Homo sapiens: one gene and its partner. The protein of the gene in region 2 purifies or fractionates together with the protein of the main gene of each other region. This does not show direct contact. Each region holds a gene or a part of one and is shown on either strand. Other genes may lie near its edges.

The links. Proteins that work in one complex are often made in the same cells at the same time.
Region 1: the proteins of TRPS1 (region 2) and ZFHX3 purify together in Homo sapiens (affinity purification with mass spectrometry; one large-scale study listed by BioGRID and IntAct). This does not show direct contact.

The regions. Positions count from the first base shown.
Region 1 is NC_000016.10:72,782,385-72,786,128, reverse strand, and holds the end of ZFHX3 (zinc finger homeobox protein 3), read left to right. Parts: 3' UTR 1-3,244; downstream 3,245-3,744.
Region 2 is NC_000008.11:115,407,996-115,410,985, reverse strand, and holds the end of TRPS1 (zinc finger transcription factor Trps1), read left to right. Parts: 3' UTR 1-2,490; downstream 2,491-2,990. UniProt on the Homo sapiens protein: Transcriptional repressor. Binds specifically to GATA sequences and represses expression of GATA-regulated genes at selected sites and stages in vertebrate development. Regulates chondrocyte proliferation and differentiation.

The DNA of each region.
Region 1 (3,744 bases), on a different chromosome or scaffold from region 2:
TTCTCCCCTTGTCCCTTAATTCCACTTTCTCTTTCTTGTCCCTTAATTCCACTTTCTCTTTCCTTCTCCCACCTCCCGTCCTATAATCTCCCACTTAAGGTAGCTGCCTTCATTTCTTAGAGGGAGCTGCAGAATTATTTTATAAAACTAAAGAAAGAATTTCAAGGGATTCTAGGGGTCATTAGGATCCTCACAGATTATTTTTGGTTGGGGAGTTGAAACTTTTTAAAGGCATATAATTCTAGTTACCTGTGTCTGTTAGCTTTGTGCATTTATTTTTTATTTATCCTTCTTTTGGCTTTTTTTTCTTTGTACCCCTTCTTTTCCTCCTTGTTTGGTAGGAGCTTCAAATATTCTTTTTTTTTCTATACTAAAGGATTTGTTTCCATTTGTGTAATTGGCTGTGTACTTTTCTTTTCTAAAAAAAGTTTTTGGTTAGGGATTTGGTTTTTGGTTTTGTGTTTGTTTTTTCTTTCCTCTCTCAGAAAAAAAAATTTCATGCTTTAAATAAAATCCAAAGACACACCCTTTCACTGCTGATGCAGAAAAAAGGGAAAGGGTTCTTGTTACTTGAGAATTTGTTTCTGATTTAAACAAACAAGACTTAGTTTAATAAAAGAAAGAGAAAAACAAAAGATTCCCAGGTTGTTATGTGCTTCTTCTGCAAGCAGAGAGGCAAATGTTAATGACAATTCCATATACCAAAAGACACATTTTTTACTTCAAAGTTTTGTCCTTGTGTTAGGCAGTCTGAGCAGCGAGTGATCCAGAGCGCAGCCAACAAAGCAGCAGATAGCAGTGTACAGAAAGCAAAAAAGGAACTGTATGTGAGGCACTTGTTTCTGTTAATATCCATATTCCTGTTAACACACACCCTTTCTCATGTAAAAAGAAAAATAAATAAATGGTCTGAACTTTGAAAACTTTGTGCTGCTAAAACATAGATTTTGGAGACAAATAAATAGATGCTTTGCTGTTTCACTTTCATAGCTAAACATCAACAGAAACCATCTCCCCTTGCCCCCAAAGTGTGAAATCCTTCTTCCCTTCGTTTTCTTCCTTATGTTTCAAAAGGGAACTTTGAAGACTGTGAATACAGGTTCCATTGGTCACCTTTCGGGCTTCTTTCCCCAGTGCTGAAGCCACTCATCGACTTTGCAAAAGACTGGAGCATTCCAAGATCTGAAAATGGATTTTTTTTCTTTTTTTCTTTTTTAGCCGGGACTATTTTATTTTTATGAATTTGTTTTTAGTTTAATGAAATAGTAGATCCTGAAATGTTGTACATATTTCTAACTAGGCTGATGCACAGTGCAAATTCCTTTTTTAATTGTTTTTTTTAAGTAGAAATACTAAAGAAAGAATACCATCTAACTATTCATACCAGTATCCAGTTGTAGCATAAGGTGTCAAAAGCAAGTACGCAAAACATTTACTGTTTTAACAAGCTATTTCCTTTTAACAAGAAATCTTGTATTTCTTCCTGTGTTTGAGATGAACATTTTTAAATTTTAAAGTTGTACAGTTTTTTGTTTTCCATTATTTTATCTTGTTTGTAACTCTATGAAATATATATATATATATTTTTTGCCATTTAACTGTTGTATGTTACTCTGTGTCTGTACCATATAGAAAAAAAATTGTTTTTGTTTTTGGTTCTCTATGTGATATCAGTTAACAATGTAACACTAGCTTTACCTGTCAAATTCTGCTAGGTCTTCTCTGAAAACGTTGTTTTTAAAAATGATATTGCTTGGTAATAGTGCAATTTCTATCCTTTTCCCTCCCCCCTCAACTTTTAAGTTCTTTTCTTTATAATTTTGCTGCCCCCTCCCTGATGGTTTGGGTTTTTGTTTTTGTTTTTGTTTTTTTTTTTCATGGAGCTACTATGCCATCCTCCCTCTGTGAGGCAGAGTGACTGTCAGTGTTTTGTTATGCCATGCCTTGAGCTGTGGGTGTTTGGCGACAATAAGGTGGTTGAATAGATTGGCTGAGCACACTTCCACCCACCTAGTGTTCTCAGAGGGGTTATGTGATTGTTTCAACCTGGAGTGGGTTGCACCCTTAATGCTTTCCTCTGCAACTAAACCGCCCACATATATGTTCATTGAAAAAAGTAAGAATAATTCTCAGCACTAACCCAGAAGTAGCAAAGCAGTCAGTGATGGTGAACATTAGAGGTCAAACATGAGTTAGATGTTTGTGGGCTGACAGCCATCGTGGCTATGACCAGTACTATTTACAAAGCATGAATTCACTACAATGCTCAACTGTTTGTTTAGCTTTATCTCACTTGGGGAATTTATTCCTGTCTGCTGCATTGTAGGTAGCTGGGTAGGATATATTTCCACTTGCTTTTTAAATTAGTTCTTCACCTCCATTGACACTCGTTTTTTGGTTTTCTCCCTATAGTGTGGGTTGGTGCTAGACACCAGTCTGACCCACAGAATGGGAGTTATTTCATCCATCTTTCCTCCATCCTTCCAAAAACCACATATCTACACAAGGAAAAATTTAATACATCTAGGAATTTTTTTTTTAATTACAAGCTATTTAAAGAGATGAATGTGGCCAAAGTTTTACACAATTGAAAATAAAGTAAAACAGACGGCATGTGTTTAAACCTGAGTTTATCAGGCATGGCAGGAAGTTGCAGGAGAGAGAGGCAGTGACCCAAGCCAGTGCACTTGATGTTCATGGACATATATTTTTTTTAAATAATAAATTAAAACATTTTAAATAGAAGCATAAATTGAGTTGTTTGTTGGCGCTGAGATACTGCCCACTGTGAAACAAAGCTTTGACTAGTTTTTTGTTTGTTTACTTTCTTCAGGGGGGAGGGGGGCAAGTTTGGGTAGGAAAGAAAGCATAAATGAACGTGACCCTGAGGTGAAGAGGTATATGAACAGCCTTTGCAATGTACAAAAAGAAAAAAAAACAAAAAACAACAAAAAAAATAGAGCAAGTGAAACCAAAAATGATGTTCTTGGTGTTTTTCTATAATGTAGTCTTGTTAGCTTTTTTGTTACTGTAACAATGCTGATCTCGAACTGTACCAAAATACATGGAGACTAACAAACAGAACCACATGGAACTTTCAAACTGAAAAAAAAATTTGTCACAAAAACTTTGTTGTCATAGTTAAGTTGATTGTAGATGGTAATTGAATATACTCCTTTGAAAATATTTCATCAAGTATGTTTCCTGCTCATTGTGATACATTAAAAAAAAAATATGAGCAAAAGCTCCTGTCTCTGTTACCACATTTGTGCACATGCATGTGTGTGTGCAGGAGAGAGAGGCTGATGGCTGGCAAAGTATAAATGTGAATACCTTGAGGTTGTGTGTGCAGGGAGTACTTATCCCAAGGTACAAAAGGATGTACACGAGCCCTTTAGTGTTTCTAAAGACGCTTGTATTTCCCATCTCCTGGGGCTCATGAATGTCAGAAGTTTGGGCCATGATGCCGTCTGCGTTTCTTCATTGGGAGGGGTGAGTCTGATATCTTGGACGATATTTGGCCCTAGAGTGCCCTAATAGCAACTAGATTTTTAATTCAAATATTTATATGAAAGTTTTTGATGCTTGACACAATTGCAGGCAAAAAAGTTTTACTGATTGATAGCCATGAGAAAGGTAGGTTCAACTTTTTTGAAATGGGAATTGGATCTAGTGTTTATGACAGAAAGATATGAACGGTAAGTTGAACTAATGGATAACTGACTACATTTACCTGTCCTAGCA
Region 2 (2,990 bases):
AAATTTATTTTTTTAATTTAAGATTTCTGAATTATTTTATCTTAAATTGTGATTTTAAACGAGCTATTATGGTACGGAACTTTTTTTAATGAGGAATTTCATGATGATTTAGGAATTTTCTCTCTTGGAAAAGGCTTCCCCTGTGATGAAAATGATGTGCCAGCTAAAATTGTGTGCCATTTAAAAACTGAAAATATTTTAAAATTATTTGTCTATATTCTAAATTGAGCTTTGGATCAAACTTTAGGCCAGGACCAGCTCATGCGTTCTCATTCTTCCTTTTCTCACTCTTTCTCTCATCACTCACCTCTGTATTCATTCTGTTGTTTGGGATAGAAAAATCATAAAGAGCCAACCCATCTCAGAACGTTGTGGATTGAGAGAGACACTACATGACTCCAAGTATATGAGAAAAGGACAGAGCTCTAATTGATAACTCTGTAGTTCAAAAGGAAAAGAGTATGCCCAATTCTCTCTACATGACATATTGAGATTTTTTTTAATCAACTTTTAAGATAGTGATGTTCTGTTCTAAACTGTTCTGTTTTAGTGAAGGTAGATTTTTATAAAACAAGCATGGGGATTCTTTTCTAAGGTAATATTAATGAGAAGGGAAAAAAGTATCTTTAACAGCTCTTTGTTGAAGCCTGTGGTAGCACATTATGTTTATAATTGCACATGTGCACATAATCTATTATGATCCAATGCAAATACAGCTCCAAAAATATTAAATGTATATATATTTTAAAATGCCTGAGGAAATACATTTTTCTTAATAAACTGAAGAGTCTCAGTATGGCTATTAAAATAATTATTAGCCTCCTGTTGTGTGGCTGCAAAACATCACAAAGTGACCGGTCTTGAGACCTGTGAACTGCTGCCCTGTTTAGTAAATAAAATTAATGCATTTCTAGAGGGGGAATATCTGCCATCCAGTGGTGGAAATGTGGAGTAAAGAAGCTGGTGGTCTGCTTCTGTGCTGTATGCCAGCCTTTTGCCTTAAGTTGAGAGGAGGTCAACTTTAGCTACTGTCTTTGGTTTGAGAGCCATGGCAAAAAAAAAAAAAGAAAAAAAGATCAAGTCGTCTTTGGTGAGCCAGTAAGGTGAAAGCTTGCTGACTGTCCAAGGCACAAGAGAAAATTGAGGAATTGAAATGCAACCTGAGTATCAAACTAAATATTCTAATCAAAGGTAGGTACTGTTAGGTGGAATTCTATCAGCAGGCAACTGCAAATGAGAAGAAGATAGAAGGACGCCCGTCGGGACTTTGGAGGGCATTGTTATTTTCCCAAAGAAAGACGGCCAAGGGCAGAGGCATGGATTCTTTGCAGAGCACTTCCTTTTGGTTTTTCAGTACTGTTTCATAGACAGTGGGCTCACATGTTCCTGATAGTGCTGCAGTTGCTTAGAAAGCATCCCAGTTAATTGCAGTAATTAGAACTTCTGGAATATGCTAGGGCAGAAGTATGTCAAGTATGTCACATGAAGAAAATGTGAAATTCAAGAGTAATCCACACGTGAGAAACTAGACAATGTACATTCATGTGTTCTCTTGAAAGGAAAGGGAGAGCTGTAAGCTTCACTCTGTCCTACACCGGAGAAAAGCAGGAATAACTTTACCGTGGAAATAATGTTTAGCTTTTATCAGAGAAAATTGTCCTTCTAGAGCATAGAGTCCCAAAACTCAATTCTGGTTTTCCCCTGTTTTTTTTTTTTTTTTTTTTCCCAACATATAAACTGCAGCATATCACTTTTTCTTTTTGTGCCTCAGGTTCCTCAGCTGTAAAATTGAAAAATATATGTATTAATAATATTATTAATAATAATAATGGTAATGTAGTACTTGTTTGTAAAGCACTTTGAGATCCTTGGTTGAAAGGCACCATAGGAGTGCCAAGTATTATTATGTGGCCAAGGGGGTTATTTAAACTGTCAGTTCCCAAAGGCCAGGAAAGGTTGGGGTCATTTTTCTTAAAGACGAGCTGTAAATATCAACTAGGCAGCCAATAGTGTTGACTATGAAGATGCAAAACTATTACTAGGCTGATAAAATCATAGTTTCTTAATGGCTACCAATAAGGCAAATATCACAATAATAAACGCCAAATTCCTTAGGGCGGACTATTTGACAACCACATGGAAAACTTTGGGGGAGGCATGAGGGGGGAACATCTCAAAATGCCAATGTAAAATTTAACTTACAGCAATATTCACCAGCAGAAAATGTCTTTCATATGGAATGATTTCATGTTGCTAAGAAAAAGAATTCAATTTGTAGTCCTGATTTGAATACTAGAATGTTGGCTATAATAGTTCTGTTCTTACAACACATGAAATTTTTTCGTTTTATTTTATTTTGTTTTCATAGTGCATGTTCATTTCTACTCACAAACATGTTCTTGGTGTATTTCTTATGCAAACAATCTTCAGGCAGCAAAGATGTCTGTTACATCTAAACTTGAATAATAAAGTTTTACCACCAGTTACACATAACGGCGTTGGTATGGTTTATATGGATTCACTTTCATCCTTCTAGCAATAGGAAATACAGATCATTGTAATATATATATATATATATATATATATATATATATATATATATATATATATATATACAGGCTCTGCTGAATTGAAATGGTGAAATCAAATCACCATTCTAAAAAATTATTACTTATATTGATAAAGCCTGGACTCTCTCAACTTGTTGTGCTTTGATTTTTTTTCTTAAACAAACACTCTCTCACTGATATATTTTGTGTAAAAAGATATATACTACTTTCTCCAGAGAGATAACATAAAAATGTGTTTATTTCAAAAACATTCAGTTGAGTATCAAATATTGAGTGTCGAGTATTGGGTAATGATTATGTTACGATGTGTAAAAACTCCTGCTTATGAAGTTTAACTTTGAATTCGGTATACTCATGTGAACATGATGCAATTCCTAATCAATCATCTCAAAAAGTTTAAATTAATATATCAAATATCTT